7 linked regions of the Homo sapiens genome follow. The protein of the gene in region 7 purifies or fractionates together with the protein of the main gene of each other region. This does not show direct contact. Each region holds a gene or a part of one and is shown on either strand. Other genes may lie near its edges. The genes, in order: CEP170, FBXL16, DIMT1, PIGQ, SLC25A3, DCK and MAP2K3.

Evidence for each region.
Region 1: the proteins of MAP2K3 (region 7) and CEP170 purify together in Homo sapiens (affinity purification with mass spectrometry, with the first as the bait; one large-scale study listed by BioGRID). This does not show direct contact.
Region 2: the proteins of MAP2K3 (region 7) and FBXL16 purify together in Homo sapiens (co-immunoprecipitation; one large-scale study listed by IntAct). This does not show direct contact.
Region 3: the proteins of MAP2K3 (region 7) and DIMT1 purify together in Homo sapiens (affinity purification with mass spectrometry, with the first as the bait; one large-scale study listed by BioGRID). This does not show direct contact.
Region 4: the proteins of MAP2K3 (region 7) and PIGQ purify together in Homo sapiens (affinity purification with mass spectrometry, with the first as the bait; one large-scale study listed by BioGRID). This does not show direct contact.
Region 5: the proteins of MAP2K3 (region 7) and SLC25A3 purify together in Homo sapiens (affinity purification with mass spectrometry; one large-scale study listed by BioGRID and IntAct). This does not show direct contact.
Region 6: the proteins of MAP2K3 (region 7) and DCK purify together in Homo sapiens (affinity purification with mass spectrometry, with the first as the bait; one large-scale study listed by BioGRID). This does not show direct contact.

The regions. Positions count from the first base shown.
Region 1 is NC_000001.11:243,126,282-243,129,781, reverse strand, and holds part of CEP170 (centrosomal protein of 170 kDa), read left to right. Parts: intron 1-328; coding exon 329-422; intron 423-1,481; coding exon 1,482-1,533; intron 1,534-3,043; coding exon 3,044-3,333; 3' UTR 3,334-3,500.
Region 2 is NC_000016.10:695,802-699,301, forward strand, and holds part of FBXL16 (F-box/LRR-repeat protein 16), read right to left. Parts: intron 1,619-3,500; 5' UTR 1,605-1,618; coding exon 972-1,604; intron 123-971; coding exon 1-122. UniProt on the Homo sapiens protein: Substrate-recognition component of the SCF (SKP1-CUL1-F-box protein)-type E3 ubiquitin ligase complex.
Region 3 is NC_000005.10:62,393,906-62,397,405, reverse strand, and holds part of DIMT1 (dimethyladenosine transferase), read left to right. Parts: intron 1-2,798; coding exon 2,799-2,922; intron 2,923-3,358; coding exon 3,359-3,451; intron 3,452-3,500. UniProt on the Homo sapiens protein: Specifically dimethylates two adjacent adenosines in the loop of a conserved hairpin near the 3'-end of 18S rRNA in the 40S particle.
Region 4 is NC_000016.10:572,968-576,467, forward strand, and holds part of PIGQ (phosphatidylinositol N-acetylglucosaminyltransferase subunit Q), read left to right. Parts: intron 1-1,098; 5' UTR 1,099-1,107; coding exon 1,108-1,796; intron 1,797-2,871; coding exon 2,872-3,003; intron 3,004-3,166; coding exon 3,167-3,287; intron 3,288-3,500. UniProt on the Homo sapiens protein: Part of the glycosylphosphatidylinositol-N-acetylglucosaminyltransferase (GPI-GnT) complex that catalyzes the transfer of N-acetylglucosamine from UDP-N-acetylglucosamine to phosphatidylinositol and participates in the first step of GPI biosynthesis.
Region 5 is NC_000012.12:98,596,686-98,600,185, reverse strand, and holds part of SLC25A3 (solute carrier family 25 member 3 isoform b precursor), read right to left. Parts: intron 2,331-3,500; coding exon 2,151-2,330; intron 1,665-2,150; coding exon 1,483-1,664; intron 552-1,482; exon of another isoform or gene 302-551; intron 232-301; coding exon 59-231; intron 1-58. UniProt on the Homo sapiens protein: Inorganic ion transporter that transports phosphate or copper ions across the mitochondrial inner membrane into the matrix compartment. Mediates proton-coupled symport of phosphate ions necessary for mitochondrial oxidative phosphorylation of ADP to ATP.
Region 6 is NC_000004.12:70,996,649-71,000,148, forward strand, and holds part of DCK (deoxycytidine kinase), read left to right. Parts: intron 1-1,418; coding exon 1,419-1,534; intron 1,535-3,500. UniProt on the Homo sapiens protein: Phosphorylates the deoxyribonucleosides deoxycytidine, deoxyguanosine and deoxyadenosine. Has broad substrate specificity, and does not display selectivity based on the chirality of the substrate.
Region 7 is NC_000017.11:21,308,711-21,312,210, forward strand, and holds part of MAP2K3 (dual specificity mitogen-activated protein kinase kinase 3), read left to right. Parts: intron 1-3,431; coding exon 3,432-3,500. UniProt on the Homo sapiens protein: Dual specificity kinase. Is activated by cytokines and environmental stress in vivo. Catalyzes the concomitant phosphorylation of a threonine and a tyrosine residue in the MAP kinase p38.

The sequences.
Region 1 (3,500 bases), on a different chromosome or scaffold from region 7:
GATAAGAGGGCATTACTGTATTGTAAATTATAAATATTAAAGTTTTGAGGTCATAACATCATTTACATTTGTTTTATATTTTGTTTTCAATAAAGAATAAGATAAACAGTAAAGAATTTATGCATGTATTAATAAGCATTCAATTGGAGCTCATACACATGAATTAATTGGTACTGTTGGCTTAGTATTTTAATTCTCAGTTTATGCGGTGGTTGGTTTTTTTTCTTTGTGTACCTTTGAAAAGATACATTGCTTTGGTATTATTAACAAAAAAGTAATAGGTTTTTAAAATATAAAAAGTTATATGCTTATGTTTTTTGATTTATAGAATATTATTTAAAGACAAAGATCGGAATTGGGATGACATAGAAAGCAAATTAAGAGCCGAAAGTGAAGTCCCTATTGTGAAAACCTCAAGCATGGTATAGTAATTTTTCTTGAAGATTAAAACATTTTAATAGAGTTTTATTTTAAGGAAAAGACCCTTATTTTTGAGCTGTTCGTTGATTTGCTTTTTCAAAAGAAGATATAAATGCAAAATTTTGGGAAATTTTATTTCTTCTACTGACTCACAGGTTTAAAATGTTGATTGTTTCAAAGTTGCAGAGGGTATGAAGGAGGAGCCTTTTGTGTTTCTTACTAGTATAGATTGTTCTTGTAATAATTAAACATTAGAAACATGAAATTTTTAAAGAGAACCAAATCTAACATGAAAATATTAAGTTGACATAAGTCGTTTCCGTTTACTTAATATAATGCTTATCTTCTTTTTAAAAGAATTTGTACAGATTTTCATTGCTCAGAATATAATTATAATATTGAGGTTGCAGTTTATATGTTTTTACAAAGATAATTTGAAGGCATTTTTACATAGTTATTGCAAGGTTGATTAATAAGAATTTTAAAAATCTTTGCGGCCGGGTACTGTGGCTCACGCCTATAATCCCAGCACTTTGTGAGGCCAAGGAGGGCGGATCACTTGAGGTCAGGAGTTGAAGACCAGCCTGGCCAATATGGCGAAACTCTGTCTTTACTAAAAATACAAAAATTAGCCAGGCATTGTGGCGGGCGCCTATCATCCCAACTCCTTTGGGGGCTGAGGCAAGAGAATTACTTGAACCTGGGAGGAGGAGGTTACAGTGAGCCAAGATTGCGCCATTGCACTCCAGTCTGGGCGACAGAGTGAGACTCGGTCTCAAAAAAAAAAAATCTTTGCTTAAATAGTAGTAAATGTTAAACTTTTCATCTGCTACAATCATCTCACTGAAAAAGTTATTGTATTTCATTTTAGTTTAAATATTTTAATTTGAATCTTGTTTGCTAGATATCATAATTATTTCATATCATGTTGCTATTAATGTAGTAAGTACCATGTAGATAATATTAAGTGTTCCAAATAAAGTGAGAGTGAAATTCATTGCTTGTAAAGTGATAACATTTAGCTAAAAGTAGGCTAATTTTTGTTATTGCTTTCCCTGCAGGAGATTTCTTCTATCTTACAGGAACTGAAAAGAGTAGAAAAGCAGCTGCAAGGTAAATTTACTACTGAATTAAGTATAAAGAGCTAATAATTTAGAATAAGTGCCTTCTGAGTGGTATTTCTTAAAATATTGTTAGGATGTTATTTGATTAAATGTAATGACATACATAAAATACAGAGTTCAAACATTCACATTATTCATAAAAAGGAATTTTTTTAAACCCAGTATAAAAATTTAAAATGTAATAAAGATATATGTTGGGCATATTTTAGTTCATAGGTTTGACAGTAGGCTAGATGTCATAAACTAATTGAAATTTTTTATGTATTACATATAAATAATATGTGAAAAATATATAATAAAGTTGTGTTAATTAGCATTATTTGTGTGATTTGACAGTTCTTAAATTATGTTGGTGGTGTAACCTGAAACAAACTTACATTCTAATAGAAATAATAGTTGTTTGGTTGACAAGAAATGAGTACATATTGGCCATAGAGACCAGAAGAGAAAGGAGAGAAGAAAGTGAAAGAGGCTGCCCTCTAAACTTGTCAGAGCTGGGCTGTGCATTAATGCCTATGTATGTCTTGACCCAGAAGTCCCCAGTGGTACAACAGGCAGGTTCCATAGTCAACTGCTAATTCTACTGAGTCTTTATCTATCGAATAATCATAGGTACTTATGTGGATCCTATCAAAATGATTTTTCATCTTTATTTAGCCCCAACACACCTAAGGGTTATGGTACACCCCATGAGTAAAAGTGGCTTGCTAACACAGTGCTTGTTAGCTGGTAGACTGGGGGTATACTTTTAAAAGTCCCTTCTACATGATTCTTACATCTATGTTACTTCCTTCTCCCAACTCCCTACTCTGCCCAATGCCAAATTGAAAATCACCGCCTGAGAACTTTCCATGTCAACCCAAAGATCTTTTGGACTGAAAGCTGACCTTTAACTGACCCCTTCCATATAGGCAGCAAGTCTGTTTGGCTTTGCAAGCTGCCCTGTGATATTAGTCTGTAGGCTCTGAGGGAACCCCTGTATCTCAGTGGTGTATACAGCTGATAACCCTAGCACTCTGGCCAGGCTAAATGACCGTATTCTATGGTAGCATTCAAAGTATGCTGATGTTCTTCTGGCCTCTCCAGCCTTGAGGTTACTCTGAACCCTGACTTAGCAGCTAATACCTCAGTTATCTGAGTGATGTGGGTTTAGATGTTTATTAAAAATCATATTCAGTATTTTCTCGGTCCTCTCACAATAATGAAGACAAATTTCAACAAGATTTTTCTTGAATTCCACATCTTCAAATACCAGACTTACAAGTCTCTGAAATGCCCGTAAGTGCCACATCAAAGGACCCAGAGAAAGTATTCAGGGCTGGGTGATTTACAGTACAGCTACAGAATAACTAAGAATGGAGTTTTAAATATAATATTGGAAGATTAGCCACATTTAAGATCACATACGCACTGATAGTTTAAATATTATCCAAATCATGAACAGTGTTTATATGTGAATGTAACTGCATCTAAAATTATTTCCTTTTCCCGCCCTTTAGCAATCAATGCTATGATTGATCCTGATGGAACTTTGGAGGCTCTGAACAACATGGGATTTCCCAGTGCTATGTTGCCATCTCCACCGAAACAGAAGTCCAGCCCTGTGAATAACCACCACAGCCCGGGTCAGACACCAACACTTGGCCAACCAGAAGCTAGGGCTCTTCATCCTGCTGCTGTTTCAGCCGCAGCTGAATTTGAGAATGCTGAATCTGAGGCTGATTTCAGTATACATTTCAATAGATTCAACCCCGATGGGGAAGAGGAAGATGTTACAGTACAAGAATGACTTTCTCTTGATTGTTGAAAAATCATTACCTGTGGAATGGCTAGGAATATTGGAAGCAGCATAGTGTTGATGTACGCAAAACAAGACAGCTTGGTCAGCTACAATCTTGGAATCCCTGTCTTCTTAATTTTATTTATTTATTTTTGACGTATAATGTAGTATATCAA
Region 2 (3,500 bases), on a different chromosome or scaffold from region 7:
CAGTCACTCACGCTCAGCGAGGTGATGCGCGCGCTCAGGCTGGACCACAGCCCGGCCTCGGTGAAGTCGTTGCAGCCCGACAGCTCCAGACGCACCACGCCCTGCATCTGTTCAAGCATAACCTGCAGGCGGGCGGGCGCCGGGTCAGGATTGCAGGAGAAGGGGTGGAGCCCGCAGGGAGGAAGCAGTAGGGTGTAAACATGCAGGGAGCTGAACCCTGAAAACATTTGGCAGTGTGTGAGGAGGCGGGGCATCGGGACGAGAGCCCAGGGCCTGGCCAGGGCAGGTGCTGGGGGCGTTGGCACCAGCGTTACAATTAGACTCCAGACCCGGCTGCCAGGCGGCTCCTCTGACCTCTACTCCTGGGGGATCCTTTCCCAGCTGCCCCTCAGCTCCCCCTCGCATCCTCCCCACACTGCATTTGTATTTATTTATTTATTTATTTATTCATTCATTCATTCAATCATTTTGAGACAGAGCCTTACTCTGTTGCCCAGGTCCCAGGCTGGAGTGCAGTGGCATGATCTCAGCTCACTGTACCCCCCGCCTCCCGGGTTCAAGCGATTCTCCTGCCTCAGTGTCCTCCCAAGTAGCTGGGACTACAGGTGCCCACCACCAGGCCTGGCTAATTTCTGCATTTTTAATAGAAATAGAGTTTCACCATGTTGACCAGGCTGGTCATGAACGCCTAACCTCAAGTGAGTGGCCTGCCTCGGCCTCCCATAGTGCCGGGATGACAGGCTTGAGCCACCGGGCCTGGGCCCTGCATTTAATCCACTGCCCTGCTGCTGCCATCTTGAAAATCTTGAGTGTCTTTGAACAAGGGACCCACATTTTCGCTTTGCGCGAGGTCCCCTGTAGTCAGTCCTTCTTTCCTCCCACCCCAAAGCCACCATCCGCTCCCACCTCCATAGGGTTGCTGCTGCCCGCCCCTGCCCCCCAGCCCTGTCCCCCCCGAGCCTGGTGCACACCTCGAGGCCTGCGTCCGTGATGGTGGAGCGCTTGAGGCTCATGGCTTTGACACCCTTCTTGGAGAGCGCATAGTTGTCAATGAACTCACAGATGTCCAGGTCGGAGACGCCAACCAGGCAGAAGCCCTCGAAGCCTCTGGCGGCAAAACCCTGCAGGTTCACGAACTCCTTCTCGCCACCAGGCAGCACGTTGTAGAGCTCCTTGGCATGCAGCACCGGCGTGAGGCCTGCCCAGAACTTGGGCTGGTACAGCACGCGCCGCCAGGCCTTGCACACCTGGGCCAGCACACACTTCTCGCAGGCCGAGAAATACCAGAAGAGCCCATTGAGGATCTTCTCGTCCGTGGCCAGCGGCGGCCGCTCCGCTGGGTGCCCAGGTGCCAAGGCTGAGGCTGGTCCACCTGCCGGGGTGCACGGGCCCCCAGCCAGGGCAGCCCGGGACAGTGGAGCAGCCAGGCTGGGTGGTGGGAGGGTGGGTGGGGGTGGTGGCTGGCAGGGGCGGTTCTTGGTGGCTGGCGTGCCCTTGGTGATGCTGGCCGCACCCAGGCCGTTGGGCTGGCCCGGCAGCTTCACCAGACCGTTTCGAGGCAAGCATGGAGGCTTGGGGTCGCCGTCGATGCCCGGGCTCGACATCTTCCTGGCACGCTCTGTGGATGAGGGCCGGGAGGGGGAGTGAGTCTGTTGCTGAGTCTGGAAGGCCGGGGTTGGGGGCGGGTGCAGTGGGGCTCCTTCCCTCCTTGGGCGTCCCTATGGTGCTCCCAGAACCACCAGACAGAGAGGATGGGAGTGCCTGCTTCTCCCTCCCAGACTGTGAGCAGCAACAGGAAGCCAACCATGGCCACTGGCAGCACTCACTGGGCACCTACGGTATGCACTGAGCCCAACCTTCATTGCCCATGGACACCCTCTTTTTCTTTTGTTTTTTTTCTTTTTGAAACAGAGTTCCGGCCGGGCGCGGTGGCTCATGCCTGTAATCCCAGCACTTTGGGAGGCCGAGGCGGGTGGATCATGAGGTCAGGAGATCGAGACCATCCTGGCTAACACAGTGAAACACCATCTCTTCTAAAAATACAAAAAATTAGCTGGGCATGGTGGCAGGCGCCTGTAGTACCAGCTACTTGGGAGGCTGCAGCAGGAGAATGACGTGAACCCGGGAGGCGGAGCTTGCAGTGAGCCGAGATTGCGCCACTGCACTCCAGCCTGGGCAACTGAGCAAGACTCTGTCTCAAAAAAAAAAAAAAGAAACAGTTTCACTCTTGTTGCCTGGAGCGCAGACTGGAGTGCAGAGACAGGATCTTGGCTCCCCGCAACCTCTCTGCCTCGTAGGTTCAAGTGATTCTCCTGCCTCAGCCTCCCGTGTAGCTGGGAATTCGGGCGCCCACCACCACACCCGGCTAATTTTGTATTTTTAGTAGAGATGGGGTTTCTCCATGTTGGTCAGGCTGGTCTCAAACTCCTGACCTCAAGTGATCCACCCGCCTCAGCCTCCCAAAGTCCTGGGATTATGGGAATGAGCCACCGTGCCTGACCGGAAACCTTTTTGTTTGCCCAGTGAGGCGAAGAAACGCCGACACTTTTTAGCACTTAGGTACCATGATGGCCATTTTACAGAGAAGAAAATGGAGGTGGACCTGGTGAGGCCAGGACTGCTCTCTTGACCTCTCTGCTGTGCCGTCCACTGTAGGTACCCACCAGGCCCACCCCTCTGGGCAGGCCAGGGGAACTGAAGGGAAGGGTCTGGGGTGGCCTCTGGCCCCTCCCCTGCAGGGTGACTGCACAGCGCTCAGGAGGGGCTCTGGTGCTGACTCTGCAGCCACCCTCCACATGCACAGGAGCTTCCCTGGCTCAGAATCTACCCAAGGGGCTGGGTGCAGTGGCTGATGCCTGTAATTCTAGCACTTTGGGAGGCTGAGGTGGGTGGATTACAAGGTCAGGGGTTTGAGACCACCTGGCCAACATGGTGAAACCCCTTCTCTACTAAAAATACAAAAATTAGCCGGGCTTGGTGGCAGGCTCCTGTAATCCCAGCTACTTGGGAGGCTGAGGCAGGAGAATCACTTGAATCCAGGAGGCGGAGGTTGCAGCGAGCCGAGATCACACCACTGTACTCCAGCCTGGGGAACAGAGTGAGACTTTGTCTCAAAAAAAAAAAAAAAAAAAGAAAGAAAGAAAGAAAAAGAAAAAAAGAAAAGAAAAAGAAAAAAGAATCCATGCAAAGAAAGGGCGGGCATCTTCCCAGGGTGTGCTGTGGTGCCAGCATGGTTAGCCCTGGACACAAGCTGTCGCTTTAATCTTCTGCCCAATGAGAACGATGCTGTGATAGCTGTACCCACTGCACAGATGAGGAAACTGAGGCCAAGGCTGGGCAAACTGCCTGCCCGAGGTCATGGCCAGATAAGTGGTGAAGCCAAAGTTCGGGCAGAGCTGGCTGAGGAAGGCCATGCGGAGGTTATCTTCAGGCCAGCGACATCCACGCACAGGGTGGAGTGGGAGCAGTCCCGGGCACCCTCCTCAGGCCTCCAGTCTGTA
Region 3 (3,500 bases), on a different chromosome or scaffold from region 7:
AAACAAACTTTGTACTTGATAGATGCCAAAACTGTCATACCCTCTTTTCTGAAAGATTTTATGAAAAAACAAAACAAAAAACATTGTACTCAAATCAGCTGCAGATAAAAGCAGAGCTTCCAGTGGAAATTTTACATAACTGGGATCAAGATCCTGAAACATGGCTGGGTGGAGTGGCTCACACCTATAATCCTAGCACTCTGGGAGGCCGAGGCGGGCAGATCACTTGAGGTCAGGAGACCAGCCTGGCTAACATGGTGAAACCCCATCTCTACTAAAAATAAAAAAATTAGCTGGGCATTGTGGTGGGCACCTATAATCCCAGCTACTCGGGAGGCTGAGGCAGGGGAATCGCTTGAACTCAGGAGGCGGAGGTTGTAGTGAGCCAAGATTGTGCCACTGCACTCCACACTCCAGCCTGGGCAACAGAGCGAGATTGTCAAAAAAGAAAACAAGATCCTGAAACATTTCTTCAAAGAATTACAAAGAATTGTAATGGAGATGAAATATGGCTTTACCAGTGTGATCCTAAAGACAAAGCAGAGTGAAAGTGATGCCTACCAAGAAACGGAGTGGCTCCAGTCAAAGCAAAAGCAGACCAGTCAAGAGCAAAGGTCATAGCAACAGTTTTTTTTTGAATGCTCAGGGCATTTTGCTTGCTGACTTTCTTTAGGACCAAAGAATGAAAACATCTGCTTATTACAAGAGTGTTTTGAGAAAGTTAGCTAAGATGTAGCAGAGTAACTCCTGGGAAAGCTTCCCCAGAGATTCCTCCACCATAATACTTCTACTCCTTCCTCTCATCAGACGAGGGCAATTTTTCGAGAGTTTCAATGGGAAATGGTTAGGTATCCACCTTACAGTCCTGATTGGGCCCCTTCTGACTTCTTTTTATTTTATGAGACAGTCTTGCTCTGGTGCCCGGGCTGGAGAGCAGTGGTATGATCTGCACTCACTGCAGCCTCCACTTCCTGGGCTCAAGCATTCCTCCCACCTCAGCCTCCCAAGTAGCTGCGATTACGGGCATGTGCCACCACACCCAGCTAATTGTTGTATTTTTTTTAGAGATGGGTCTTGCCATGTTGCCCAGGCTGTCTCCCCCTCCTGAGCTCAAGTGATCTGCCCACCTCAGCCTCCCCAAATGCTGGGATTATTACAGGCATGAACCATGGTGCCCAGCCCTTCTGATTTATTTTCGTTTCCCAGTCTTAAAAAATCTTGAAAGGGCACTCTTTTTTCTTCAGTTAATAATGTAAAAAAAAAAAACCTGCAGTGACATGGCTAAATTCCCCAGAGCCTCAGTTTTTTTGATATAGACTAAAATGCTGGTATCATCACTTACAAAAGTGTCTTGAACTTGATGGAGCTTATGTTGAATAATAAAGTTTATGTTTTTTCTTTTTTTTCTTTTTCTGAGACAGGCTGGAGTACAGTGGTGACATCTCAGGTCACTGCAACCTCAGCCTCCCTGGGCTGGGCTCAGATGATTCTCCTACCTCAGCCTCTTGAGTAGCTGGGACTATGGGGGTGTACCAGCATGCCTAGCTAATTTTTGTGTTTTTTTTAGAGAAGGGGTCTCACCATGTTCAGCCCAGGCTGGTCTTGAACTCCTGAGCTCAAGCGATCTGTCCGCCTTGGCCTCCTAAAGTGCTGTGGATTATAGGTGTGTGCCGCCACACCAGCCTTATTTTATCTTTTAATTCAATATTTCCATGAACTTTGAAGTCACTTTCTATATTATATACTAGTGGCTTTCAAACTGCAAGTCAAAAACTAGTGGTTATAAAATTAATGAGTCATGACCATTCTTTTTTTTTGTAATCACATGGAATAGAATATATCACAGGGCATTGCATGTAGTCCAGGTGATTATGGTTTCATGAAACTTTTGTTTTGAAATACAATATAAACACATATACATACAGACATTTGTGGCTTGGCTTGCAATGCCAAATGTATTTTTAGTGTGACTCATTGTCAAAAGTTTGAATGTCAAAGTGTAGCTTTGAAGATACTCTTCTGTTCGTTAACCCCTACAAAGTCTTCCCCATTGCCTGCTGAATAAAAAGTCTACATCTTTTGGCTGGGTGTGGTGACTCATGCCTGTAATCCCAGCACTTTGGGAGGCTGAGGTGGGCGGATCACCTGAGGTCAGGAGTTCCAGACCAGCCTGGCCAACATGGTGAAACACTGTCTCTACTAAAAATAGAAAAATTGGCCAGGGGTGGTAGTGTGCGCCTGTAATCCCAGCTACTCGGGAGGCTGAGGAACGAGGATCACTTGAACCTGGGAGACGGAAGTTGTAGTGAGCCGAGATTGCGCCATTGCACTCCAGCCTGGGCGACAAGAGCGAAACTCCGTCTCAAAAAAAAAAAAAAAGTCTACATCTTTTAACCCGTCAAATCAAGGAAACATTGAACGTCACAATCTGCCTCTTCAGTCTCACCTCTTCCTTAAAGGTGTTTGCTACCCCATAAATATATTACTGCTACTGAAACAATTTTATTTCACTTTGTTTTCATAGAAGAGGTGATGGACTAGTGCTGATTTGAAACATCTCATCCAGTCATTAAAGGCTTATATTTGCAAGCTATCTTGCCATGAGGAGTACAGCAATTATAAAAACAAAGCCAGCTCTCTCATTCTGTGGCAATAAAAAAAAGGCTGAATGTGTTCTCCTACCTTATAATCAGCTGCCAATGCTTTGCTATTTCTCTCCCAAGAAAATTCATTGCAGTTAAAATTCATTTATAGTTGACAATGACCATTTTCCTTATTCCTTTCTGCTTTCTTTTCAGGTGTGCTATACTTATGTTTCAAAGAGAATTTGCCCTCCGACTGGTTGCAAAACCTGGAGATAAGTTATACTGCAGACTCTCAATTAATACACAGCTGTTGGCACGTGTGGACCATCTAATGAAAGTAAGTGAATTTTGTTTTCTTTCTCTTTTTTCTGAGATAGAATCTCACTCTGTCACCCAGGCTGCAGTGCAGTGGCTCACTGCGATCTCTGCCTCCCATACTCAAGCAATCTTCTCGAGTCCCGAGTAGCTGGGACTAGAGGTGTGCGTCACCACGCCTGACTAATTTTTTGGTATTTTTTGTAGACACAGAGTTTTGCTATGTTGCCCAGGTTGGTCTTGAACTCCTGGGCTCAATGATCCATCTGCCTTGGCCTCCCAAAGTGTTGGGATTACAGGTGTGAGCCAAAGCACCCAGCCAGTGATTTTTATTATTGAAATAATCTAGCTTAATTCATCCTTGAGCATCCAGTTGTGCCTTCTGTGAGGATAGCATATCTGGTTACTAAATAAAAGTTGCCTTTGTGAGTACTACTTAAATACTTTTTCATTAACAGGTGGGAAAGAATAACTTCAGACCACCGCCCAAGGTGGAATCCAGTGTTGTAAGGATAGAACCTAAGAATCCACCACCACCCATCAATTTTCAGGTGAGGTTAAAATACTAGCTCATTCAATAAAGGAAAAAAAAGTCCAGGC
Region 4 (3,500 bases), on a different chromosome or scaffold from region 7:
GGGGCTTTCTGTGTCTGAGGAAGGCGAGCGGCCCAGCCAGCCGGCCAGTAGTGCCCCCACCGCTAGGGAGTCCTCCTGCCCTGTGGGGCCCCGCCAGGGAAGGCATCAGTGGAGAAGGAGCCCCAGCTGGCTGCATGGCTCCGCAGGGGCCTGTGAGAAAGGGGGAGGAGAGGCCCAGGGCCTGGGAACCGCGGTAGCTCAGGTGGCTTCCTACTCAACAGCCACCTTGGAAGGCTGGTGTCCCTCAGCCTGAGAGTGCAGGATGCAGTTTCTCCACACCTCCGGGACCTGTAAGCCTCTCTCTCCCCGTTTCTAGGCACCCATGTCGTTGGAGAAATATATCCTGGAGAGAAAATGCTCCCTGAGGGAGCCCTGCCCTGGGGTGGCTGTGGGGATGTCAGGGAGGGCCAGGCACTGCCGGGTGCCACCGTGGGCGGGGGTCAGAGTGGAGGCCGAAGCCCTGTGTGCCCTGAGCAACGAGGCAGGTCCTTCCTGCCCCCAGGGAGGGGCTTGTGGGAGGCAGGGACCTTCTGGGGGGCTGCCCGCCGTGCGCACGAGGTAGTTTCCACAGCCCAGCAGCACATCATTTTACATTTTCATCTTTATTCTTGCTTAATACGTGAATCATGGTTTGTCAAGGTTTCAATTGGCGTGACCTTGCTAATGAGATTGTACAGTTCTCCTCGTGCTACACCTTTAAGCACACCTCTCTAATCAGGTTTCTTAAAACTAAGAAGCCTGGAGTTCGGTTCGGCCCCACAGCCGCGTCAGGTGGTGCCGAGGAGGCCGTGCCCTGGGCCGGCCTGGAAATGGGAGGGCAGGCCTGGTGGCTGCATGTGCGTCCTGCCTCGTGCGGGTGGGGCTGAGCTGGGCCTGGGGTGGACTTGGGGCCAGCACTCTGGCTGCCCCTTGGAGAAGCATGGCCCACGCGAGGCGGCAGCCAAGGAGCCCTACGGCGTCCACCACCGAACTTGAAGCTGAGGTGCCCCGACCTGGGGCCCTGTGGCTGCACCTGTCAGGCCGTCTGTGCAACATCCCGCAGCCCACGGTGGGGGGGCAGCAGCAGCTCTGAGCCGAGCCTCTCCTCTTCTCTTCCAGCCTCCCGGCATGGTGCTCAAGGCCTTCTTCCCCACGTGCTGCGTCTCGACGGACAGCGGGCTGCTGGTGGGACGGTGGGTGCCGGAGCAGAGCAGCGCCGTGGTCCTGGCGGTCCTGCACTTTCCCTTCATCCCCATCCAGGTCAAGCAGCTCCTGGCCCAGGTGCGGCAGGCCAGCCAGGTGGGCGTGGCCGTGCTGGGCACCTGGTGCCACTGCCGGCAGGAGCCCGAGGAGAGCCTGGGCCGCTTCCTGGAGAGCCTGGGTGCTGTCTTCCCCCATGAGCCCTGGCTGCGGCTGTGCCGGGAGAGAGGCGGCACGTTCTGGAGCTGCGAGGCCACCCACCGGCAAGCGCCCACTGCCCCCGGTGCCCCTGGTGAGGACCAGGTCATGCTCATCTTCTATGACCAGCGCCAGGTGTTGCTGTCACAGCTACACCTGCCCACCGTCCTGCCCGACCGCCAGGCTGGAGCCACCACTGCCAGCACGGGGGGCCTGGCTGCCGTCTTCGACACGGTAGCACGCAGTGAGGTGCTCTTCCGCAGTGACCGCTTTGATGAGGGCCCCGTGCGGCTGAGCCACTGGCAGTCGGAGGGCGTGGAGGCCAGCATCCTCGCGGAGCTGGCCAGGCGAGCCTCGGGACCCATTTGCCTGCTGTTGGCCAGCCTGCTGTCGCTGGTCTCAGCTGTCAGTGCCTGCCGGTAGGTGTCCCGGGACAGGCAGGTGGCAAAGAGTGGGGTCCCATGAGTGCTGGCCCATCCCTTTGTCTGCAGTGGGCACAGAGGCCCAGATGCGCTCTTCCTGGGCCCGGGCCCCCTCCCACTCCTGCAGCCCGGGCTTTGGCCCCATCCTGCTCTCCCAACCCTCGCCTCTCAGAGGGTGTCCCTCACCCCTGGGGTAGAGCCAGGTCTCTGGGCAGCCTCAGGGATTGCCAGGGGCCCTCCCAGAAGGTGTAGAGGGTGAACCTCAGTGGCTTAGGTCCCTGAAAGAGAAATCAGAAGGTGAGCACAGACATGACTACTGCTGCCTGGGGGTGCTCCTGAGGGCACACAGGCCCGCTGGCCTCCCTGTAGCCCTGCCTGTGCCCCCAGCAGGCCTCTGGACACTGCAGCGCTCATGGGCTGTGGGGGTGTCATCCACTTGCTGGCCCCGTGTGCCTGGGGGAGTGGTCTACAGGCCCTGCTTCTCTCCACAATCACAGGTGCTGCTGGCCAAGGGTCAGTTGAAGCCCAAGGGCCCTGAGGGGCACGGGGGTAGCCCCGAGCTGTGGCTGAGAACAGAGGGCCCCCTTCCACAGGGGACCTCATCTGCCTGGCGGAGGTGCCCCATGGGGAGCAGCTAGGGGTCACCTGCAGTTGCCCCCTGCCTTAGACCCGGGGGTGCATACTCTGGAAGCCTGGGGTGAGAAGCTAGGCCAGCCCAGGAGACCCCGGGCAGCTTTCTGGGCCCTGTCGGCGGGGCGAGGCCCTGGGCCCGTGGGAGTTGCTGCTGGCTGGCAGGCGCTTCTTGGCACCGGCTCTGGGAGCATGTGGTGACCAGGTGGCCCGGGGTCAGCACCTGCGAGGAGGCCAGGCTCCGTGTTAGTCACGTGCACTGTGAGGTGGGCGCGTTGAGCGCTGCCTACCACCACCTGGGCCACCGAGGGCCCCTCCCACCTGCCCCCTGTCCTGCTGAGCTCAGGAGTGTGGCCTGGGTGTTTGTGGTCCCCTGCACAGTGGGGGACGGTGGGAGGAGGATCTGGAGAGGGACACATCACTCCTCTCCACTCCCACGCAGAGTGTTCAAGCTCTGGCCCCTGTCCTTCCTCGGGAGCAAACTCTCCACGTGCGAACAGCTCCGGCACCGGCTGGAGCACCTCACGCTAATCTTCAGTACACGGAAGGCGGAGAACCCTGCCCAGCTGATGAGGTGTGGGCCTGCCCTGGTCTCTGCAGGGCTGGGTGCGTGCCCTCTGGCCCCTTCTCCATCCCCCTCTGCACCACGCTGACCCCTCCGGCCAGGCAGGCCTCCTCCTGCGGCCCCAGGCTGTGCTGGCCACCCTCATGCCGGCCGGGCCGGACCTCCCTTCCAGGAAGGCCAACACGGTGGCCTCTGTGCTGCTGGACGTGGCCCTGGGCCTCATGCTGCTGTCCTGGCTCCACGGGAGAAGCCGCATCGGGCATCTGGCCGACGCCCTCGTTCCTGTGGCTGACGTGAGTGGACTGGGGTGGAGCCCGGTGTCCCGGGTGGGCGTGGGGACCCCTCCTGGGCAGCAGAGCCTTCCCGGGCCAGAGCCACCGCCCCACAAAGCCAGTTCTACCTTCTCCATGCTCTGGAGACACGGCCCTCCCCTGAACCAGAAGCAGGAACTCCAGGGGCGCTGGGGCCTGGGCAGGGCAGGCCTCGCAGGTACACCCCCCTTTCCT
Region 5 (3,500 bases), on a different chromosome or scaffold from region 7:
TAATGGAAATGATTATTTGTTCATAATTTCAGACAAGTGTGTTCTAAGTAATTCGTACCTATGTAACCTGCTACAAATGTTACAACCAGCTGCTCTGGCTTTGAACATTCACTGCGGGGCTTAGGAACCACAAACTTGTACAGTGCTTCAACAGTACGTTCAAAGCAGGCGAACTTCATCATGGTGTATGGTATCTGTCTCATCCAGAGAGGAGCAACCCCCTTGTAGAATCTAGGAAATCAAGAGACTTGTTTTACACAGTTGCATACACTCATCTATCAGAGACTGTCATTATTAACAGAAATGTCCGCACACGAGTCGAGTCCTGATAGTAACAAATGGCAGCATAAATGCATGTCATTTCTATCAGAACGTTAGACTAACATGCAGGTATATTTCTCTTACATGCCAATGACTCAAGCACCTTTGACTATACAACCAAAAAAGTTGCTGGATGTTTCTTTGACTACTGGAACCACAAGAAACAAGAAGTTTACAAGTGGAACTCAGTTCAAGATTCATCCACAAAGGTGGATCTAAGGAAGCATGTTGTGGTCATGGAAATTCTTAACTGTGAATAGATCACAAGGATACTAACAAGCCCTCCCTAAAAGTTAATAGTAAATGTTTAGGCCAAACATCAAGTCATTTGTAGACCGACAAATGGTCCTTACTCTAGGGAAAAAAAAAAAACTCAGTCCAGGGCTCAAACCATGTATTAACTTATCTTTACCTCTCAAGTTTATGTTCTACATACAGGTAAATAGACATTAAATGTTATAATAGTCTTTTTAAAAAGTCTGGTAGGCTTAATACTAAAAAATGAAGTTCACAGCCAGACGCGGTGTCTCACGCCTGTAATCCCAGCACTTTGGGAGGCCGAGGCGGGTGGATCACCTGAGGTCAGGAGTTCGAGACCAGCCTGACCAACATGGAGTCTCTACTAAAAATACAAAATTAGCCAGGCGTGGTGGTGCATGCCTGTAATCCCAGCTATTCAGCAGGCTGAGGCAGGACAATCACTTGAACCTGGGAGGCGGAGGTTGCAGTGAGCTGAGATAGTGCCATTGCACTCCAGCCTGGACAACAAGAGCAAAACTCCGTCTCAAAGAAAAAAAAAAAAGAAGCCGGGTGCGGTGGCTCACACCTGTAATCCCAGCATTTTGGGAGGCCAAGGTGGGCGGATCATGAGGTCAGGAGATGGAGACGGTGAAACTCCGTCTATACTGAAAAATACAAAAAATTAGCTGGGCGCAGTGGCAGGCGCCTGTAGTCCCAGCTACTTGGGAGGCTGAGGCAGGAGAATGGCGTGAACCCGGGAGGCGGAGCTTGCAGTGAGCCGAGATCACGCCACTGCACTCCAGCCTGGGTGACAGAGCGAGACTTTGTCTCAAAAAAACAAAACAAAAAAAAAAACAAAAAAAAATGAAGTTCACTTAAAATAAGTACTTTCATAGTATAAATTTTTAAGTGTTTACTTACGCTTTTAGGCCTTCTTCCTTATACATTTTGGGAGCTGCATCCCTCAAAGTGTTGGCATAACCTGGCTGGGTTTGAATTCGAACCTTAGCAGCTTCCATAGGAGCCAGGGCAATGTCAGCAAAGAATTCAGCACTGGCAGAGGCAGCCAAATATAGTGATGTGCGCCAGAGATAAGTATTCTCCTAAAATCCAAAACACAAGGAAGGGATGTGAATTGCTGTTGTGTTGGTTTTCAATTGAAGTGACAGTTCTAGAAAACAACTAAGCTTCAGACATTTTATAAAGTAACACACGATGATATGGAATATATATGTGGTCTCATAACCTCATTAACAAAACACGTAACTATGTGAACAACATGAATATTCAAAAAATATCTAGATGCCATGCCCCGGAACTACGCAAAGGAGTCCCAGAGCCCTTCTCTAAAAAACTCAAAATCCAACTTACTTAGAAAACAAGATAGTATATTAAAAGGAGAATTGTAATTTAATGAAATACATTTATCAACCTGTCTCTGCTGACACAGGCATACGATTTAAAACAAGTTGCTCACTTTGTAGGACCATTTTCTTCAGTGCTAAAATAAGGCAAGACAGACAAAAATCTAAGAACACTCGGAAAGTCTTAAACACTCGGAACATTCAATTTTAAAGTTAATTACATACCTCTCCAAGCATATTGCTATACAAGACTTTAAAGACTTCATAAAAGCCAAACTTGCAGAGTCCCTGCATGGAGTAGCCAAGGAAAGTCGGAGCCCATCCTTTAGCCAAACCACGAACACCATCCTCTTTAAGTGTAACTGAGAATCCGTTAAATATGCCCTTGTACTTTTGGGGGTCCACCTTTATTTAAAACAAGAAAAAAAAAATTAAATGCACCAAACAGCTAACATAAAAATTTAATCTCATGATTATTTTTGTTTGGGTTCCATAATAAATTTCAGCAACTACACAAAAGGTAACTACAGTAATTCCTGCCAGGCACGGTGGCTCACATCTGTAATCCCAGCACTTTGGGAGGCTGAGGCAGGTGGATTACCTGAGCTCAGGAGTTCAAGACCAGCCTGGGCAACACAGTGAAACCCCATCTCTACTAAAATACAAAAAATTGGACGGGCATGGTGGCGTGCACCTGTAATCCCAGCTACTCGGGAGGGTGAGGGTGAGACAGAACAATCGCTTGAGCCTGAGGGAGGGAGGTGGAGGTTGCAGTGAGCCACGATGGCACCACTACACTCCAGCCTGGGCAGCAGAGCAAGACTCCATCTCAAAAAAAAAAAAAGAAATACAGTAGCTCTCCCTTATCCAAGAGTTCATTTTCTGTGGCTTCAGTTATCCAAGGTCAACTGACATCTGAAAATATTAAGATATTTTGAGTGAGGAACTACATTCATATAACTTTTATTAGTTTATGCTTATCACTGTTTATTATTGTTCATTTGATTACTTTTATAAATAGAAACTGTTGTACATTAAGGTCTAGCTTTCTGTGTCAAACCTAAGTCTTGGAGTGATAGTTAAGAGGGTAAAATTTCAACAAAAGCTTTCTGTGTCAAACTTAAGTCTTGGAGTGATAGTTAAGAGGGTAAAATTTCAACAAAAATACGTAACAAAACTGATTCTTAACAGATTTCTTACCACCCAACTCCTACTACTTTTTTTGTGTTTTTTGTTTGTTTGTTTTTTGAGTCTTGCTCTGTAGCCCAGGATGGAGTGCCATGGTGTGATCTCAGCTCACTGCAACCTCCACCTCCCAGGTTCAAGCGATTCTCCTGCCTCAGCCTCCCGAGTAGCTGCGACTACAGGCACGCCACCATGCCCAGCTAATTTTTGTATTTTTAGCAGAGATGAGGTTTCACCATGTTGGCTAGATTGAGTTCTGATCTCGAACTCCTGACCTCAAGTGACCCACCTGCTTCGGCTACCCAAAATGCTGGCATTCCAGGTGTGGGCGACCATGCTTGGCCCACCTCCTACTTTTTAAAAGCTACTGTCTAGATAATAGATATAACT
Region 6 (3,500 bases), on a different chromosome or scaffold from region 7:
TAAGCTGTGCGTAAACTATTTTGCAATTCCTCTATTTTTCCTAGAATTTGAACTTTACTTGGTCGTTTTAGTTTTATATTTATATAACCCATCTTCTTATGTTCTGTGTTACTCAAATGTTCCCTTATGTTAGATTGATGGAGGACTTACCTGCTTCTCATCTTAATAGTCTGTTCAGAATGACTTTCAGCATTATAATGCCTGCTTGGCATTAGGAATTCTGTTAGTTTCCATGACTTTTTAAAGTATTAACATCAGTGTCTTTGGTTCTTGTTCTCCTTTGCCTTCATAGAAAATTAATTTATTAATTAGCTTATTTTCTAGCTCCCACTTTGCCCCAATAAGTTAAGGAACTAGATGTGTTAGTGTGATTGGGAACTCTAGCTGTTATTACTCTGCTTGAACTAAATGTAACTGTTATTACTCTTAGACTTTTTAAGTATGACCATATGAATTTTTCTGCTTGTAAGCAGTGTCAGAAGAAAGTTGAATGCTGTAGCCTTAAGTGCTTTCAGACTCTGGTGGATGCCTAATTTTTTTATTTGTTCCTTGGGTGCTATTTCTGAACATCATGTTCTCCTTTCCCTCTTCCATCTAGCTCAGTGAATGTGGGGTGTTCTTTCTATATGCTTTCACTTCCACTTAACATTCTTCTAAATGCTGTACAGTCCCTAAGCTTACACTCTCCATACTAAATTTTGGTGGCCAGTGTTTTTACCATGATTAAATCTCACTGTTATCCAGTTTATCGTTAAAAGTTTTTCTCCTCTCCTCTGGATACAGTTTACTTTGTGTTTTTCTTCTAAACTGTCTACCTGTGTCACCTTCTTTACTGCCTCGCTCCTGTTTTTTCTCTGTGTGTAATTCTTTAAAGTTCTTCCAGGTTTTTCTTCTTTTCTATTGCCCTGTCTAATGTCCTAGATTTAAATATAGTTCTGCAAGTCAAAGGTAAGTTCTTTCTACTCCCCATGGATCTAATTTATAAGGAAGAGGAAGCTTTGCTTGTAAGTATATTGAAGTTATTTATATGTTCATCTGTGTGTGTGTGCACGCACACACAGGGAAAGAGAGAGAACATTATGCTAACCAGAGATGTCTAATACAACCACATTTGGTGACTTCAGATATAAAGGGTGTGGTGGCCATTAGGAGTATTACTTCTAGGTCAAGACTGTCCCTACTATTAAATATAATATATTGTTAAACTAAACGTAATAAAAAACAAATGTGCTTAATGAAATTGGGCAGGGAGCCTTTTCATTTTCTTCTAAAGAAATATGAAGAGAAAGTTTAGAAAGTTGAATGTTTTGGGCTTTTTATGTTGCTTGCTATTGTAAATCTTGCAAAAGCTAATGACTACTTGACATCTTTTTTTCCTGACAACTTTTCTTCCTCAATTTTATCTTTCCTCACAACAGCTGCAGGGAAGTCAACATTTGTGAATATCCTTAAACAATTGTGTGAAGATTGGGAAGTGGTTCCTGAACCTGTTGCCAGATGGTGCAATGTTCAAAGTACTCAAGATGAATTTGAGGTATGAAAATAAAATTTAAGTAGATAAAAGCCTCTTGGTTTAGAGGAGCAGTAGTACTTAATCTCTTTTTCTTTTTCTTTTTCAATAAAACTTTCAAATCTCGCTTTAGGTATATATCTTCATCTAGGTGGTGGTTACATGGATATATATACAGTTGGCTCTCCATATCAATGGGTTTCAGATTGATATGGATTCAACCAATCATGAATAGAAAATATTCAGAAAGAAATAATACAAAAAAATACAAATAATAAAGGATTACTGTTCATATAGCATTTACATTGTATTAAGTATTATAAGTAATCTAGAGATGATTTATACTATTTGGGAGGATATATGCAGATACTACACCATTTTACATAAAGGACTTGAGTATATGTGGATGTTGGTATCTGTGTGGAACCTGGAATCAATTCTTGAGGTTACTGAGGGGTGACTATATGTTTAAACATGCATTGAGGCCGGGGTTGGTGGCTCACGCTTGTAATCCCAGCACTTTGGGAGGCTGAGGCGGGCGGATCACTTGAGGTGAGGAGTTCAAGACCAGCCTCGTTAACATGGTGAAATGCCGTCTCTACTAAAAATACAAAACTTAGCTGAACGTGGTGGTGGGCACCTGAATTCCACCTGCTTGTAAAGCCGAGGTAGGAGAATTTCTTGAACCCAGGCAGCGGAGGTTGCAGTGAGCTGAGATGGCGCCACTGTGCTCCAGCCTGGGTGACAGAATGAGACACTGTCTCAACAAAAAAAAAAAAAGGAAAGTAAAATTTATCAAACTATGCATTCAAGATTTATGCACTTTAAGTAAAGTATAAAAGTTTTCTTTTTCATAAAAATTTCTTTTTTTGTTGTTATCCTTTAAGTTCTGGGATACATGTGCAGAACGTGCAGGTTTGTTATGTAGATATACACATGCCATGGTGGTTTGCTGCACCCGTCAACCCGTCATCTACATTAGGTATTTCTCCTAATGCTAACCCTTCCCTTGCCTCCTACCCCACCGACAGGCCCTGGTGTGTGATGTTCCCCTCCCTGTGCCCATGTGTTCTCATTGTTCAACTCCCACTTACAAGTTAGAACATGCGGTGTTTGGTTTCCTGTTCCTGTGTTAGCTTGCTGAGATTGATGGTTTCCAGCTTCATCCATGTCCCTGCAAAGGTTATGAACTCATTCTTTTATTATGGCTGCATAGTATTCTTTGGTGTATATGTGCCACATTTTGTTTATCCAGTCTATCATTGATGGGCATTTGGGTTGGTTCCAAGTCTTTGCTATTGTGAATAGCGCTGGAGTAAACATACATATGCATGTGTCTTTATGGTAGAATAATTTATAATCCTTTGGGTATATACCCAGTAATGGGATGGCTGGGTCAAATGGTATTTCTGGTTCTAGATCCTTGAGGAATCGCCACACTATCTTCCACAGTGGTTGAACTAATTTACACTCCCACTAACAGTGTAAAAGCATTCCTATTTCTCCACATCCTCTCCAGCATCTGTTGTTTCCTGACTTTTTAATGATCACCATTCTAACTGGTGTGAGATGGTATCTCATTGTGGGTTTGGTTTGCATTTCTCTAATGACTGGTGATGATGAGCTTTTTTTCATGTTTGTTGGCTGCATAAATGTCTTCTTTTGAAAAGTGTCTGTTCATATCATTTGCCCACTTTCTGATTGGGTTGTTTGTTTTTTTTTCTTGTAAATTTGTTTAAGTTCCTTGTAGATTTTGGATATTAGCCCTTTGTCTGATGGGTAGATTGCAAAAATTTTCTCCCATTTTGTAGGTTGCCTGTTTACTTGGATGATAGTTTCTTTTACTGTGCAGAAGCTCCTTAGTTTAATTAGATCCCATTTGTCAGTTTTGGCTTTTGTTAACACTGCTTTTGGTGTTTTAGTCATGAAGTCTTTGCTCATGCCTATGTCCTGAATGGTATTGCCTATGTTTTCTTCAGAGTTTTTATGA
Region 7 (3,500 bases):
TTGCTGTATTTAGACTGCACAGAACTGGTTGGATATTAGAGACCCTGCTCATGACTACCTCACACATACACACACCCTATGTCCCTTCCCCATCTCCCTGTCTCCCTTCCAGTTGTCCATCCATCATGATTGTTGGGGCCACCATGGCTAGTGGCCTTCTGATATGGCTGGTGGAACTTGGACAAGTGTGTGCTAAGTGTATATTTCAGTTATCAAATATTGCATAGCAAACCACCCTAGAACCTAGTGACCCAAACCAACAGCGGTTTCTTATTTCTCATGTTTCCACCACTGTGGCTGGGCTCAGCTGGATGGCTCTTCTGCTGTACCTGGGATTGGCTGGGGTCATGGCTGGGCTGGGCTGGTCTGGAAGGCCCAAGACGGCCTCACAAACATGGGCCTCCTCTGCCTGGCCTCTCCATGCAACTTACTCACATTGGCCTGCTCCCTGGGCTTCAGAGCATGGCAGTGTCAGCAGAGTTGGAGTTCTTTCATGATGGCTGGCATCTAAAAGGAAGTTCTCTGAAGTGCTAGGCCTGGAACTGGCACAGCATCACTTCTGCCTCATTGTGTTGGTCAGCGAGTCACAGGCCAGCCCAGGTTCAAGGGCAGGGAATGCTCCCGGCTTAATGGAGGATCAGCAGGTGCACACAGCGGGAGGCGGAGGTGGTCACTTTAGGCACAGGTTAGGTTTTTCTTTCACAAGTTACAAACGTAGTGGAAACCTAACATAAAAATAGAGGCACAGTAAGGGGAAAATGACTGTAGTTATTCTACCTAGAGACACCTCTTACCCCGTTTCAGTGCCAACATTGTGCATTATATTATATATATAATATTTTTATTACATATAATAAAATACGTTTTATTAAAATTTAGAGAAATACAAACAATATGTAATGCTTCTCTTTTTTTGTTGTTGAAACAGAGCCTCGCTCTGTCACCCATGCTGGAGCGCGGTGGTGCGATCTCGGCTTACTGCAACCTCCGCCTCCCAGGTTCAAGTGATTCTCCTGCCTCAGGCTCCCGAGTAGCTGGGACTACAGGCGTGCGCCACCATGCCTGGCTAATTTTTGTATTTTTAGTAGAGATGGGGTTTCACCATATTGGCTAGGCAGGTCTCAAACTCGTGATCCACCCACCTTGGCCTTCCAAAGTGCTGGGATTACAGGTGTGAGCCACTGCGCCTGGCCTCGTAATGCTTCTTTTTAAAAAACTTTTTAAAAAAAATTTTGTAGCATTACATGTTGTTCATATTTGTCTCTCTCTCTCTGTTTTTTTTGTTTTTTGTTTTTTTTGTTGTTTTTTTTTTTAGATGTAGTTTTGCTCTTGGTGCCCAGGCTGCAGTGCAGTGGTGCAATCTCGGCTCACCACAACCTCTGCCTCCTAGGTTCAAGTGATTCTCCTGCCTCACTCAATCTCCCAAGTAGCTGGGATTACAGGTGTGCACCACCACATCCAGCTAATTTTGTGTTTTTAGTAGAGATGGGGTTTCTCCATGTTGGTCAGACTGGTCTCGAACCCCCGACCTCAAGTGATCTGCCTGCCTCGGCCTCCCAAAGTGCTTGGATTATAGGTGTGAGCCACCGCACCTGGCCAATTTCTCTAAATTATAATAGACTCCTGTATGTATCCCTTCCAAAGACTCCATAACCATCTGCCACCATTCAGTCACCCTGTCTGCTGATGTGGGTTGTTTCCCTTGTTCCTGCTGTTTTCCTTCCATTTCAAATTCTCAGCCATCCTGGGGGAGCGACTGATGAAACAGAGTCGGGAGAGTCCCCCTGGGTGGGGCTCTGGCCTCGGCCTCCCCCCATCCTGCAAGGGCCCCAGAGCTCTCTTGGCGTTGGCTTTTTCCCACTCACTGCACAAGCCTCAGGATGCCAGTGGGAATCACCCAGAACAGACAGGGGTCATGCCGGGGATGGCCCTTGGCCAGGAGCAAGTGCTGACTGGGTGCTGGCCTGTTAGTGTTGTCGCTGGGGAGTCACAGGGGTGCGACTACGGTCCTGGCTGGGTCTCCGCCCCCATGGTGGGGCCGGCCCCTGGCGCTGGACATTCAGGCTGTTTCTTAGTATTTCCTGGCAGAAAACACCATATGGCACATCTTCGTGTCTGGAGGCTATTTTTGTTGTTTTTCATTTTTTGAGCTCTTTAGAAAAAATAAAGGAGTACGAGGTTGAAGGTTTGGACACTTCTGCTTTTCTAATTATAACTCTCATGGCCGCTGGTCCTTCTCCTGTAGCTCGTATGGGGTACTTGCTCTACATATTGCAGTCAGTGAAAATTCTAAGAGAAAAGCCCCCCAAATCGGTACGGTTTTGTCCTGTGAACACGCATGCACACATGCACACACACGCAGTGGGCCCTGCCTGTGTGGGTGTGTTTGTCTGAGCTGGAAAGGGCCTCTAGCCTGATGGGAGGCACAGTCTCAGCACAGTCCTTAGGGTCTTGTCCGGGCTCCAGTTGCCAGTGCCAAGTGTTTGTGCTGAGGTCTCTTCCGTTCATCATGGTGATGACGGCCGGCAGTGAGGGCCCTTGTGCTGGAGCCTCGGAATTCTCTGTTCTTCCAGGCCGGGGCCAGGGCTGACATAACTTGTTTTTTCCATCCAGTCATCATGATTGGAGCCCAGAGTTGGTTGTAAGCTAGCTAGTCCGTCCCTTCCATGATGACTTCCTGCCAACCACAGGGCTGGGAGCTTGGAGCGAGGACAGAGACCCACCGGCCCGATGTCACCCACAGGAAATCTGGATCCAGCAGGGCACATGTGGCCACACAGGCCACTTGTCTAGGAGGGAAACTGCTGGGGCCCTGCAGAAGATGAGGCTGCAGGCTCACGGGTGCAGAGGCGAAGCAGCCTCATGGTCTCACACTCTGTCCGCGGCCTTGGAGACAGCTGTGTGTGTGTGTGTGTGTGTGTGTGTGTGTGTGTGTGTGTGTGTAGCATTTCCCATGTGCCTCCTCTGTGAAAACAGCCCAAATTAATGACAGCAGATGCTGAAGTCTGAGATGGTCAGATGTTAGGAAGGGGATTGGCTGTGACCACCTGGGACCTGCCCACCTGGCTCATGAGGCTACGGCCCAAAGTTGCCAGCTCCTCAGATTTTTCCAGAGCAGCTGGAACCTGCATTGTTTTGTAAAATCTTCAGAATTCAGGTTTTCTGAAAACCCTATGATGGTCCCACCAGTCCCGGTGTGGGCTGAATCTGCTTCCTGAGCTGGGTCCTGCTGGCTGGGTCGGAGGAGCTAAGAGCTGGCATCCCCGGCTTTCTCGCCTTTGTTCTGCTGGGATGTGGTAGGGAGATCAGCTGTGCAGCTTTGACGCCTGGCTCTGGTACCAGGATGGGTGGGAGCCCCCAACCCTCGCTCCTGGGTGCAGAGCGTGGTTGTATCTGGGGCCGGGGCCTCTGACCCCCTGTCCCCGCTGCAGATTGAGATGGCCATCCTGCGGTTCCCTTACGAGTCCTGGGGGACCCCGTTCCAGCAGCTGAAGCAGGTG